Homo sapiens: one gene and its partner. The protein of the gene in region 1 interacts with the protein of each later gene in a pairwise test. Each region holds a gene or a part of one and is shown in the gene's direction. Other genes may lie near its edges.

Region 1 (8,153 bases):
CTGGGAGCAGGAAGAAGCTGTGGTAAAGAGAAGACATTCTCAGGCTAGGGCACACCATTAACAGAGGCATGGAGGTCTGAATCAAGAGCAATAAAATCACTGCAGTTCTCTTCACAGCTGCCCTGGGGTTCAGCTCCCTGGAGATTCTGATTCATTGGTTTGGGATAAGGCAAGCAGAACTTTGATATTCACTGTTGAGAACCACTGACCTGCAGCATCAGAATATAGTTTGAAGCCAAATGCAGAAGTCTTGGTAACAGCTAGAGAAGGAGATTTCTTTTTTCGAGATAGAGTCTTGCTCTGTTGCCCAGGCTGGAGTGCAGTGGCATGATCTTGGCTCAGTGCAACCTCCGCCTCCTGGGTTTAAGCTGGGATTACAGCTCCCAAGTAGCTGGGATTACAGGCACCCGCCACCATGCCTGGCTAATTTTTTGTATTTTTAGTAGAGACAAGGTTTCACCGTGTTGACCAGGCTGGTCTTGAATTCCCGACCTCAAGTGATCCACCCGCTTCAGCCTCCCAAAGTGCTGGAATTACAGGCATGAACCACCATGACCGGCCAGGATTTTTTTTTTTTTAAGTAAGTAGGCAGTACTCATAATTACCCTTCAGAAAAGTTAACTCAGTAATACTAGAACATTGACTATATTTTTAAAAATGAACTGAATCCCCTATTTGAAGACAAGGATCCACTTTTTTTTTTTTTTTTTTTTTTTTTGAAACAGTCTTGCTCTGTCGCGCAGGCTGGAGTGCAGTGGCATGATCTCAGCTCACTATAAACTCCACCTCCCAGATTCAAGCGATTCTCCTGCCTCAGCCTCCTGAGTAGCTGGGATTTATCAGCACAAACCACCACGCCCACCTAGTTTTTGTATTTTTAGTAGAGATGGGGTTTCACCATGTTGGTCAGGCTGGTCTCGAACTCCTGACCTCGTGATCCATCCACCTCAGCCTCCCAAAGTGGTGGGATTACAGGCGTGAGCCACCACGTCCAGCCCACTTTTATATTTTATAGCCTTTCTCTTAAATGTAATCACTTTCATAAGAAATAAAATTAGGATTTTATTCTCCAATGTTTTTTTAAAGAAAACAACTTCTTTCTTTTCCCAGATGAGTAAAGTTCTTGTGATTCCAGTAAATATCACATTAAAAAACCACTTAGTTCCCAAAGACTTGTCCTTTATCCCAGACCTCCATTTTGTAAATGTGAATAAAAACTCCACAATTGGAAATGGAAATATGTCAAATAGAAAGCATCACTAATTCATAGTCAAATCACAAAATAAACTTTTAGTATTAGATGCTGAGGGCACAGAAAAGTCCTGCGATAATAGCACAACTAAAGGAAGGCTTGGCTGAATATCTCTGTCATGGAAACAAAAAAGACAGATGGAAGAGCATACTTAACAGCTTCTTGTTTTTACGTAATTCAGAAAAGCAGTAAGTGGAGTTCACATTGCTTGGCCTCTAATAGCTGATAGTATGTTCAGAGTAATTGTCAATAGGTGATTCCTATCCACATTTCCCCAGACAGCTCCTCTGTTTTCCCTTTTCACTTTGCCAGTATGGAACCTACCCTGTGCAAGGTATTGTGGTAGATGTTGGGAACTCAAAGGTGTAAAGAAAGCTAGCCACATTTGTGCAGTGATAAAACAAGTAATTCCCCAGACCGGCTGGTGACTTCTGCACTGACTCTTGACGAGCAGGGCTTCACATGCCACATGTAGGTGAGGATCGCTTTTAGATGTTCTCAAAATATGGACCCCAATCCAAACCTGTCTAACAGTAAGGAGAGTCTGGACATACAGATGTTAAAACACAGTGGAGATGATCCTGGACTCCTACATGAAGACTACACAGAACATTATATTGGACTGGGGATTGTTTCTTCCTTAAATACCAGGTTCTTTTAGGGAACATTGGCAGGGCTTTCATTCCTTGTATTGAATATTCTCAAGTCGTGATATTCCCAGTGGTTTTGTTTGCTGTTATGGCTGAGACACACACACACACACACACACACACAACACTCTCACTCTCTCTCTCTCTCACTCACTCATGCCCACACTCTCCCTGTCTTCTTCTTGTTGATTTTTTTTTTTTTTTTTTTTTTTTTTTTTTGCTAGGAGGTTCAGTTCATTGGCTACTTAATATCTATCTCCAGTTTGGTCAATTGTTGATACATCTTTTGACATTTCTGGTTTTCTTGCATTTGATATTTACTCCTTTGCTCGATTTTCTCCACTTTATTCTTGTTCTTTCTCATGTCTTTTGCTTTCCTGAATCTCAGTTGAATTCCTGACAGGGTTTGACTTAAAAAAATCATTATTGTGGTGAGACCTCTCAATATAAGATCTATCCTCTTATTTTTAAGAATACAATACAGTACTGTTAACTGTAGTATAATGTTGTGCAGCAACTCTCTGTAGTTTATTCGTTTTGCTTAACTGAAACTTGATGGCTGTTGAGCAGCAGTTCACCGCCATTCTACTCTGTGTCTATGAGATTGGCTATTTAAACTCCTCATATAAGTGGAACCAGGCAGGATTTGTCCTTCTGTGACTGGCTTATTTCACTTAGCATAATATTCTCGAGGTTAATATATGTTGTTGCATATGGCAGGATTTTCTCCTTTTAGACTGAATATTCCTTTATATGTCTATATATATCACATTTTCTTTATCTGCTCATCCGTTGATGGACAGTGAGGTTGTTTCCACATTTTTTTTTTTTTTTTTTGAGATGGAATCTGGCTCTGTCGCCCAGGCTGGAGTGCAGTGGCACGATCTCAGCTCACTGCAAGCTCCGCCTCCCGAGTTCATGCCATTCTCCTGCCTCAGACTCCCGAATAGCTAGGACTACAGGCACCCGCCACCATGCCCAGCTAATTTTTTTGTATTTTTTTTAGTAGAGACGGGGTTTCACCATGTTAGCCAAGATGGTCTCGATCTCCTGACCTTGTGACCTGCCTGCCTCAGCCTCCCAAAGTGCTGGGATTACAGGCGTGAGCCACCGCTCCAGGCCTCCACATTTTTGCTATTGTGAATAACACTGTAGTGAATATGGGAGTGCTAATATCTCTTTGAGATCCTGATTTCAATTATTTTGTATAAATACCCAGAAGTGGGATTGCTAGATCATGTGGTACTTCTAGTTTTAATCTTTTGAGGCATTTTCATACTGATTTCCATAGTGGATGCACCATTTTACATTCCTACCAACAGTGTATAAGGATTTTTTCTCCGTATCCTCACCACCACTTGTTACCTTTTTTTTTCTTTTATACAACCTACAAATTGGGAGAAAATTTTTGCAACCTACTCATCTGACAAAGGGCTAATATCCAGAATCTACAATGAACTCAAACAAATTTACAAGAAAAAAACAACCCCATCAAAAAGTGGGCGAAGGACATGAACAGACACTTCTCAAAAGAAGACATTTATGCAGCCAAAAAACACATGAAAAAATGCTCACCATCACTGGCCATCAGAGAAATGCAAATCAAAACCACAGTGAGATACCATCTTACACCAGTTAGAATGGCAATCATTAAAAAGTCAGGAAACAACAGGTGCTGGAGAGGATGTGGAGAAAGAGGAACACTTTTACACTGTTGGTGGGACTGTAAACTATTTCAACCATTGTGAAAGTCAGTGTGGTGATTCCTCAGGGATCTAGAACTAGAAATACCATTTGACCCAGCCATCCCATTACTGGGTATATACCCAAAGGACTACAAATCATGCTGCTATAAAGACACATGCACAGGTATGTTTATTGTGGCACTATTCACAATAGCAAAGACTTGGAACCAACCCAAATGTCCAACAACGATAGACTGGATTAAGAAAATGTGGCACATATACACCATGGAATACTATGCAGCCATAAGAAATGATGAGTTCATGTCCTTTGTAGAGACATGGATGAAATTGGAAATCATCATTCTCAGTAAACTATCGCAAGGACAAAAAACGAAACACCACATGTTCTGACTCATAGGTGGGAATTGAACAATGAGAACACATGGACACAGGAAGGGGAATAACATCACACTCTAGGGACTGTTGTGGGGTGGGGGGAGGGGAGAGGCATAACATTAGGAGATATACCTAATGCTAAATAACGAGTTAATGGGTGCAGCACACCAGCATGGCACATGTATACATATGTAACTAACCTGCACATTGTGCACATGTACCCTAAAACTTAAAGTATAATAATAATAATAATAAAAATGAATAAGAAAAAAAATAATAATGGCCAACTTAACAGTTATGAGGTGATATCTCACTGTGGTTTTGATTTGCATTTCCCTGATGGTTAGTGGTGATAATCGTCTTTTCATATATCTATTAGCACATTTGTGTATCTTTTTTAGAGAAATGTGTATTCAAGTTCTCTGTGCATTTTTTCATTGGACTATTTGAGTGTGTTTGTTTGCTTTGAGTCATAGGAGTTACTTATGTATTTCGCATATTCACCCCATACCAGGTATATGGTTTGCAAATATCTCCTCCCATTCTATAGGTTGCCTTTTCAGTCTGTTGACTGAAAGTTTCCTTAGCGCAGACACTTTTTAGTTGAATGTAGTCCCACGTATTTGTTTTTGCTTTTTTTTTTTGTTGCCTATGTCATATCCAAGAAATCATTGCTAAGATCAATGTCAGGGAGCTTTTCCCCTATTTTCCTTCTAAGAGTTTTATAGTTTAAGGTCTTATAGTTAAGTCTTTAATCCATTTTGAGTTGACTTTTGTATATAGTGTAAGAGATAAGGTCCAGTGTCACTCCTCTGCATGTGAATATCCAGTTTTCCCAACACCATCTGTTGAAGAGACTGTTCTCTTTCCCCGTTGTGTATTCTTGGTGCCCTTTTTGAAGATCAGTTGACCATATACGTGTGAGTTTATTTCTGGGCTCTCTGTTCTATCCTAGGAATTAACATTTATTTCCCTTGTTATCCACACCATTTAGTGAGCCCATCATTCTTTTCATCTGTTTGTATTTTTGTGGGTGATAGAGAACTACTGCGATTTAAAACCTCCTAGATAGTTGAAGACACCAGATAGTTGAGCTTAAAATGATACTTAATTTGTTGTTATATTTTAGGTCTATCATATGCAAGTCACACGGTTGGTTTCACGCCACCAACTTCACTGACTAGAGCTGGAATGTCTTATTACAATTCCCCGGGTCTTCACGTGCAGCACATGGGAACATCCCATGGTATCACAGTAAGTGTCCGTGGGGTAGGAAGCAGCACTTTACTCCTGAAAGTGGTACCGACTGGTGTTCTGGAGAACAGGATCGGTGCCCTTAGACATTTGCCCTTCTTCCTGCCTCCTCCATCCGTTCACCTTGAAACTGTAGAGACTTAAACAGTTTGATACCAAATTCTGGTATTGAAACTAAAATCCTTCCCAGGAGACAAAACTTTAACTTCACTTCCTATGAAAAATTACCCTTTGTGAAATATAATTTGAACTCTGGCCAGTGCTTTGATTGAACTCTGGCCAGCTCCTTGCATTATTGTTGGTTGCCATAATGTCTAAAGATATTTATTGTCTGCACCTTCACAGTTCACTGACCTTCAGTATTCTTCCTGAAGTTAGCCTTGTTTGTAATGTTACTCAGAATTTTCTCTCCTCGAATTACAAGGAAGCTTAAGTGCATCTGGTTCCAACTCTACCCAAGGGAGTTTTTTCTTTAGAGTCGGCAATATAGTTGACTAATAGAGCCATTAGAAATGTAGCTAGTAGAGTGAGAGTATTATTAAGGGTATTTCCAATAACAGAAATACCAATATTTCAAAGAATAAATTATAATATTTTAAAGAAGAACCCTATTCTAAGAATGCACTTAAGGTATTTCTGAAGCTGTTTGGCCAGTTTGATGGACTTTATGTAAAAGTAGGAACTTTTTTTTTTTTTTTCCTCACTCTGTCATCCAGGCTGGAGTTCAGCAGCATGATGTCTGCTCACTGCAACATCCGCCTCCGGAGCTCAAGGGATTCTCTTGCCTCAGCCTCCCGAGTAGCTGGTATTACAGGCACACGGCACCACACCTGGCTGCTTTTTGTATTTTTAATAGAGACGGGGTTTTGCCCTGTTGGCCAGGCTGGTCTCGAACTCCTGGCCTCAGGTTATCCACCCACCTCTACCTCCTAAAGTGCTAGGATTACAGGTGTGAGCCACTGCACCCGGCCTCAAACATAGAAACATTTCTGTTGAGCTGTATCTTTCAGGATGTGGACAACTTATTGGAGATAAGCAATAGAGGGAATTGGTGACACACACGGAAAGAAAGATTTAAGGGGATATTTTACAGCTCTCGTTGAAGGACCCAAGTCCAGCAGTTTGTTCAACACAAGTTGTGCAGTAATTTTATGTAGCTTTTTCATAGGTGGAAGTGTAAACACTGCCTTATTTAAATTTTATTACTAGTTCAGAAACCAGTAGGGATGAAGAAAGAAATCCCTGGTTTCTTGTCTTTGTTGGTTAGTGTTTGATTAGCCCCAGTGCCAAGTCAGGCTGTGTTAGGTAGAATGAGATCCACCTGTACCTAGACTGACTTGCTGTTCCTGTCCCCTCTGCAGAGGCCTTCACCACGGAGAAGCAACAGTCCTGACAAATTCAAACGGCCCACGCCGCCTCCATCTCCCAACACACAGACCCCAGTCCAGCCACCTCCGCCTCCACCTCCGCCACCCATGCAGCCCACGGTCCCCTCAGCAGCCACCTCGCAGCCTACTCCTTCGCAACATTCGGCGCACCCCTCCTCCCAGCCTTAATGCATGAGCTTAGTCTGAATTTCAAGTTGGGACTCATCCAATGGAGCCGTCTACTCAACGCCAAAGGCTTCCTTCTCTGGCATATTTGGATATGACTTATTTGCACTGAGGTTATCTAGGCTTCACTATCCATTGTGTTGTAAATGTTTGTCAGAAATGCAGCCAGTGTTGTGGGTCTACAACACTAACCAGACGACTTTTTCCATCAGTGTTTTACTTGAATCTTCATGTACGTCCATTCCCTGGCTGGAACCTTCGCTGTTTGGTATTTGGTATTTCAGCAGCAGTGTGCAATTTTTGCTTGGCCCAGAGCTTCATTCTCCTGGCTTTTAGGTTTGTAAAAGAAAAAGGGATATCTTTTTTATATTTTTTTCCATGAATCTGCAGAAAATTACTGAGCTGTTGTTACCCTCCTCTCATTATAATAGTGTTTACCAAACATACCAATAATTCAGCACTACAATTCAGACCTTTGAAAATCTGGCTTTCAGTGTAGAACAGAAAGTTAGATGAATCAGTGCCCAAGACATATTTTCTGTTTAACAGAACTTTCTACAGATACATTTTTTACAGGTTATTTTCATTGTGTTATTGACATCCATGTCTCTCGTAAAACAGATGGCCCAAAGTAATGAATCATGTGGCTGTACCTTCTCCACATAAATGGGATGGATAATTATCGTATATTAAGATGTGATTCTCTTTTTTATCCTTAATGTTAATCTACTTAACCTGGCCCCCTCTAACATGAGTCGATAAATGTTGTCCTACTCACCGGTGGTTTCAATGGCTAATTAGAATGTGTTATTTGATTTCTGCTGCAGAAGGCAGTGTGATTGTAACAAAAACAATGCGGCTTCCCCCTTTCGTACTTCATTTGTGTTCTCTTAAAATAGAGTTTGAACAAATATTTTAAAGGTGCAAAATACCATTAGAAAATACTATTTGAAATGGACATTATCGCATTATCTTGGCATAATGGCCAGAAAATATTGTATTGCTTGGCAGAAAAGAAAATAAGGTCTAAAGGAAAGTAGCACATTAGCATTGATGGCTGTTCATTTCACCCAGTATAAGCAAGTGCAGTGTACAAAGAAGTATATTCTGAATACATTATTTCCATTCATTTAGCACAAATAAATCATTTGGTTTCACTTTGCAGTGGAACACTGAGTCACTCTTTTCTTAACACGTGCAACATCTTAATTTTTGTTTTTCAGCAGTTGCTGTTTTGTACTTTGGTAGTAAAGTGATTTTTACCACCTGTGTTTGCATATTTATATATGCTGTGGATGAAAATAACTTACTAGAGAATGTATATTTTATGACAAGAATGTGTATCTGTTGGATATAATCAGAG
Region 2 (7,000 bases), on another chromosome or scaffold:
CAAACATTTAAAAATGCCAACTTTGCTGGTAATCAGAGGAGAGGCATGTTAAGTTAAAACAACATTGAAATACCATTTCCTTCCTCAAGATTGGCACACATTTTGACATGACAATTTCTGTTGGCCAGAGTATGGGAAAACAGGTGTCCTCATAAACTGCTCTTGGGAGTGAAAATTGGTATCACAACTTTGGAGGATAATTTGACAGTAGGTGTCAAAAAAGATTTTATTATTTTTTTATTTTTTTTTGAGATGGAGTCTCACTCTGTTGCCCAGGCTGGAGTGCAGTGGTGCAATCTTGGCTCACTGCAACCTCCATCTCCCGGGTTCAAGTGATTCTCCTGCCTCAGCCTCCCGAGTAGCTGGGATTACAGGGATGCGCCACCATGCCCGGCTAATTTTGTATTTTTAGTAGAGACGGGGTTTCACCATGTTGGCCAGGCTGGTCACGAACTCCTGACCTCAAGTGATCTGCCCACCTCGGCCTCCCAAAGTGCTGGGATTACAGGTGTGAGCCACCACACCCGCCAGATGTCAAAAATTTTCATGGGCACAGCCCGTGATCCAGAAGTTCCGCTTCTCAATGTATACCCAAGATAAATGCTTGCATGAGGAGACATTTGCAGGAGTGTTTATTGCAGCCTTATTTGTAGTATTGGATGCCCCCCAAATGTTTGTCAGTGAGAAGGCACTGCCCCTGGGTCATGTGCACACCATGAGATGGAGCATTTGAGCCTCGGCTCGCTGGGACACATGGATTAGTGAAAAGGGCAGATTGCAGAACAGGATGGGCTAGTCTATTTCCATTCTTATGTTTAAAAAGAAAACTCAATCAACACCAGCCTGGGCAATGTGGCGAGACCCTGTCTCTACAAAAAATACAAAAAAATTAGCCAGGCATAGTGGCACGTGCCTGTGGTCCCAGCTACGAGGGAGGCTAAGGTGGGAGGATGGCTTAAGCCCAGGAGGTTGGAGTTTGCAGTGAGCTAAGATTACACCACTGCACCCCATCCTGAGTAACAGAACTAGACCCTATCTCAAAAAAGAAAGAAAAAGAAAACTCAAAACAAAAAAAGGAAACAGACAGGTAGTTGCCAGTGGCTGGAGTGGGAAGAGGATTTGATGATGAAGTGGCATGAGCGAATTTTCGAGGGTGATGGAATTGTTTTCTTTTTTCTTTTTGAGACAGAGTCTCACTCTGTCACACTAGGCTGGAGTGCAGTGGCATGATCTCAGCTCACTGCAACCTCTGCCTCTCAGGTTCAAGCAATTCTCCTGCCTTAGCCTCCCGAGTAGCTGGGATTACAGGCACCTGCCACCACGCCTGGCTAAGTTTTGCATTTTGTTAGTAGAGACGGGGTTTCACCATGCTGGCCAGTCTGGTCTCGAACTCCTGAACTCAAGTGATCCACTTGTCTCAGCCTCCCAAAGTGCTGGGATTACAGGCATGAGCCACCGCGCCCAGCCAGAATTGTTTTCTATCTTAATTGTGTTTAGAGGTTACAGAACTCTATGCATATATAAAGATTCATAGAATTGTTCACTAACATTGGGTGAATTAGAGTAAATAGATTATACTTGATTAAAAAAATGTTTATATATGCACACAAATACAAATATATTTCTTTCCCAAAGGCACAAATTATATATGTACAGATGCATGCCTTGGGCCTGATAATGACAGTTACACCTGACAGGAGGTGTGGGGTGGGAGGGGAACCAGGGTTAGGCTGGAGTGGTCAGTAGATGCTTTAGTTTTTTATACCATGTTTCAAACTTTTACAAGGAGAATATATTGAGATGTTATCTGTATAATTGAAGATTAATTTTAAAATTATATTCCTACCATTAGTATAGGCAAAATCCTATTTATAGGTTGCTGCTTTTATAATTCAGAGACTGATCCTGTTCTCAAAACAGGATAACTAAATAGAAGGACCATTCAAAAAATACCTGTGTGCCAGGCGCAGTGGCTCACGCCTATAATCCCAGCACTTTGGGAGGCCGAGTCGGGTGGATGCTTGAGCTCAGGAGTTTGAGACCATCCTGGGTAACATAGCAAGACCTTGTCTCTACCAAAAATACAAAAAATTAGCCAGGCATGGTGGTGCGTGCCTGCAGTCTCAGCAACTTAGGAGGCTGAGGTGGGAGGATCACTAGAGCCCAGGAGGTCGCGGCTGCAGTGAGCTGAGATTGTGCCACTGCACTCCAGCGTGGGCAAGAGTGAGACTCCATCACAAAGAAAAAACTTGTGTGGGCCGGGCGCAGTGGCTCATGCCTATAATCCCAGCACTTTGGGAGGCCGAGGCAAATGGATCACCTGAGGTCAGGAGTTCGAGACCAGCTTGGCCAATATGGTGAAACCCTGTCTCTATTAAAAATACAGAAAATCAGCCGGGTGTGGTGGTGGGTGCCTGTAATCCCAGCTACTCAGGAGGCTGAGGCAGGAGAATTGCTTGAACCCAGGAGGTGGAGGTTGCAGTGAGCCAAGATTGTGCCATTATTGCACTCCAGCCTGGGCAACAAGAGCAAAACTCCGTCTCAAAAAAAAAAAAAAAAAAGAAGAACCTAACTCTTGTGTATATGTGTATTGCTGTTTAATTACATCAATAATAAATTAATTAATTAAACACCAATAATTACATTACATTATTGATGTTTAATACCTGCTCCTTGTTATAAATTTAAACAATACAGACAATTACAAACCAAGTGAATGTCAACCCTTCCACCCTGCACTCCCGTTGCCTGGAGGTAGTCATCATTAACTGATTAATGACTGTCCTTCTTGACCTTTGACTCAATACCTTCACACATATGCTCAGAGTTGAGTTTTCTTGATGATGTTTTTGCAAAAGTAGAATCATGCTACACACAGGTGAGGGATCTCACACATTCGCCCCATTGGCGGTTGTGTAATAGTCCACTGTATGGATGCACCATGACTTACGGACAGATGTTGATAGATGTATGAGTTATTTCCAGTGTTTTTGCTCTTTTGAATAATTCTGCAGGAAGTTGTACCCACACCTTTGTGCACTGTGAGTATTTTGGTGGACTGGAACCGGGTGCTGTAGGTGTGTTACGCAGACATCCATGGGCATCAGATATCCCATTTCCTGCTCTGCTCTTCAGACCACCATCCCTGCTCAGGGCTGCATCCCAGAACTGTCTTGAAGAGCCCCTCCTACAGTGCCATGCACACAGTGACAGCCCAGGGGTTCTCATCAGGTGTCCACTGGAACCACCTGGTGCCCTTGATCAATACGGATCCCCTCATCCCCCGACCCCACCATTCTGAGGCAGTGGTCTGGGGTGGGCCAGAGTTTGTATAACATCAGGCCACCCGGGGGTTCCTGGTGCCCATGCCAGGGAGAACCACTGCTGCCACCCTCTCTTGACCACTGTCTTTTTTTCCTCCCAGAACAGGTTCTCAGACTATGAGAAGAGGAAGGTAAGAAAATGCCTTTACCCTTCTGTCACTCTTTTCTCATTAAAGATCTCAACTCAACTCATAAAATATTTGAGAAAATGACTTCTTCCCAGCTCAGAATTAGAGGTCACAGTAATGCCTTCCTCTTACACGCAGTCTGCTGCATCCTCACATGCCTCAGGTGGGTGGTAGAGCATCCATGGGACAGGTGCAGAGACTGAGGCTCAGAGGGGTTGAGCCCAGCACCGGGCTCTAGACCACTAGCCTCTTCCTGTGAACAGCTTGTTTTCTTACAGTTGGGCCCTGGAGGGGAGTGGGGGTTGCTCAGCATGAAGACCTGGAGCCTGCCCTGTCAGTGTTGAGGGGTGGATTCTCCCGACTTCTGTGTCCTAACTCCCCCAGGGCCTGTGCTGACAGTCACCAGGATCTGTGTCTTGCAGGAACAGAAGATGCTGGAGAAACTCGAGTTTGAACGGCGCCTGGAACTGGGGCAGCGGGAGCACACCCAGCTCCTTCAGCAGAGCAGCAGCCAGAAGGATGAGATCCTTCAGACGGTCAAGGAGGTTTGTGAGCCGCCTGCTAGGGTCCAGCCTGGCTGCATCCCCCAGCCAGTGGCCTCCTGGCTTGGGCCAAGGTCCCTCGGATGTGGAAAGGCAGTGGGATGAAGCTGTCACTTCCTTCTGTCCCCCAGCACCTGGGAGGGCCCTTACAGATCACCCAGCCCAGCCTCCCCGTGTGCAGATGGACACTGTAGCCTACTGGGAGGAGCTGGCCGGAGGTCACACAAAAAGGATTGGCAAGGCAGGGTGGGAAAGCCAGCCTCCTAACCCCAGTCAGTACCCCTCACGGCGTCTGAGGGGGTCCCAGGGGCTCAGGACCCCTACCTCCGGCTGCAGGAGCAGTCCCGGCTGGAGCAGGGCCTGAGTGAGCACCAGCGCCACCTCAACGCAGAGCGGCAGCGGCTGCAGGAGCAGCTGAAGCAGACGGAACAGAACATTTCCAGCCGGATCCAGAAGCTGCTGCAGGACAATCAGAGGTTGGGCTCTGCTCCTCGGCCCCAGCCCCAGAGTCCTTCCCCGTGCAGTCCCCTGAGGAGCCGGGAGGAGTGTGTTTCTCCCTCACTGCCTCTGCCCCTGCCCCGGGCTTCCCTTGTCAGGATCCAGTCTGGGTGCTTCAACTGGCACCAGCGTAGAGAGAAAAGAATCTGACCCAGTCATTACAAAGTCTGGTTTCTTAGCATGAGACTGCTACCAGATTGGACCTGTGGCCTCGGGCAAATGTTTCCCCACTGGGCCCCAAGCTTCCCATCTATAAAGTGAGTGGGTTTGACAAGATAGTTGGGATCACATCCTGCTCCAGTATTTTGGGTTCTGCGTAACCCGTTGCACTGAGGTCAGCTGTTCACCTGTAGTGAGATTTGCCTTAACAAACCCTGTGCAAGGTACGAGCTAGTAAGAGCAGATCTTGATGGGGCTGGGGAGACATGGCGCCAGAAAAGCCTGAGAAGTCTAGTGAGGGGGCCCATTGCAGGATGATTCCAGAAACAGGCTCCAGCCATATGCCCTGCCACTTCCAGGCCTCTTTTTTCTAACCCTGAATCACTCGTTCCTCCCTCACCTGTCAGTTTCAAAAGTACCTGCATGAGTTCAGGAAACCAGTCATTTGTTGGATGCTTCTTATGTGCCAAGCTTGTTACATCTATTTCTTCATTAAGTCTTTACAAATGCACCAAGAAGCTGGGTTGTTTTCATTTTGTTTTGTTTGAGACAGAGTCTCGCTGTGTCACTGAGGCTGGAGTGCAGTGGTGTGCTCTCGGCTCACTGCAACCTCCTTCTCCCAGGTTCAAGCAATTCTCTTGCCTCAGCCTCCCAAGGAGCTGGGACTACAGGCTTGGGCCACCACGCCTGGCTAATTTTTGTAGAGATAAGGTTTCTCCATGTTGACCAGGCTGGTCTCGAACTCCTGACCTCAAGTGATCTATCCACTTCAGCCTCCCAAAGTGCTGGGATTACAGATGTGAGCCACTGTGTCTGGCTGGGTTTTTTTATTCTTCTAATTTCATAGGTGAGGAAACCTGGGACTTGAGTGGTTTCAGTAACTGGCTAAGAACCCAGAGCTTCAAGGTGGTGGAGCCAAGGTGCCCCCAGCCCATTTCCTAAGCCCCTCTGCACAGCTAACGCAGTGAGACAGGAAACAGGCCTGCTGGTGACTGCCAGGACCTTTTATGATTTTCTCCACAGACAAAAGAAAAGCTCCGAGATTTTGAAATCGCTGGAAAATGAAAGGTAAGTGTTCTTCCAGGGGAGGGCAGCATTTTTTTTTTTTTTTTGAGACGGAGTCCTGCACTGTCGCCAGGCTGGAGTGCAGTGGCACAATCTCGGCTCAGTGCAACCCCCGCCGCCCAGGTCCAAGCAATTCCCCTGCCTCAGCCTCCCGAGTAGCTGGGACTATAGGCGCATACCACCACCAGCTAATTTTTTGTATTTTAGTAGAGACGGGGTTTCACCGTGTTAACCAGGATGGTTTCGATCTCCTGACCTCATGATCTGCCCGCCTCGGCCTCACAAAGTACTGGGATTGCAGGCGTGAGCCACTGCTCCCGGCCAAGGAGAGCAGCTTTGAGGGGAGAATGTCTTGTGATTCTCCAGAGGATTATGCCAGGACATTTCCCTAAAGCTATAAGGAGATTCACCTCCTTAGACGATATTTAATTACAAAGAATCATTGTCTTCAAGTTCATTAAAACATACGTACACTCCTGAAAAACATTCAGAGACATGAATAAGGCTAGATATATAATGTCCAACTATATTCCTAGTATAAAAAGTTCAGGCCAGGCGCAGTGGCTCACATCTGTAATCCCAGCACTTTGGGAGGCCGAGGTGGGCAGATCACTTGAGGTCAGGAGTTTGAGACCATCCTGGCCAACATGGCAAAACGCTGTCTCTACTAAAAATCAAAACTTAGCCAGGAGTGGTGGCAGGCGCCTATGGTTCCAGCTAAAAAAAAAAAGAAATTCAGAAAAAAAATCTAAATTTCTGGAAAGAAAAATTATTTAGTTACATAAATTATGTATGGAGGAATAACCTGCAGCCATTAAATGTCTTATTGAATAATATTTCTCATTAAGGGAAAACATAACATATTGCTAATGGAAAAAGTGACAGGCTATATTTATAGCAGAATTTTTAGTATATCTTTTTTTTTTTTTTTTTTTTGAGACGGAGTCTCACTCTGTCACCCAGGCTGGAGTGCAGTGGCACGATCTCGGCTCACTGCAACCTCCACCTCCCAGGTTCAGGCGATTCTCCTGCCTCAGCATCCCGAGTAGCTGGGATTATAGGCGCATACCACCAGGTCCGGCTGATTTTTGTATTTTTAGTAGAGATGGAGTTTCACCATGTTGGCCAGGCTGGTCTCAAACTCCTGACCTCAAGTCATCCGCCTGCCTCAGGCTCCCAAAGTGCTGGGATTACAGGTGTGAGCCACCGCACCCGGCCATGTGACTATTTGTGAAGGAAATATTTAAAGGACATTTTGCTAGGTGCCAACTTACCTTCCCAAAAA

Evidence for each region. The genes of interacting proteins can lie anywhere in the genome.
Region 2: the proteins of CCDC6 (region 1) and LRSAM1 interact in binary tests that used the Homo sapiens proteins (3 or more experiments, as listed by UniProt).

Annotation. Positions count from the first base shown.
Region 1 is NC_000010.11:59,791,557-59,799,709, reverse strand, and holds part of CCDC6 (coiled-coil domain-containing protein 6), read left to right. Parts: intron 1-5,112; coding exon 5,113-5,237; intron 5,238-6,598; coding exon 6,599-6,793; 3' UTR 6,794-8,153.
Region 2 is NC_000009.12:127,475,510-127,482,509, forward strand, and holds part of LRSAM1 (E3 ubiquitin-protein ligase LRSAM1), read left to right. Parts: intron 1-3,424; coding exon 3,425-3,454; intron 3,455-3,873; coding exon 3,874-3,996; intron 3,997-4,329; coding exon 4,330-4,469; intron 4,470-5,673; coding exon 5,674-5,718; intron 5,719-7,000.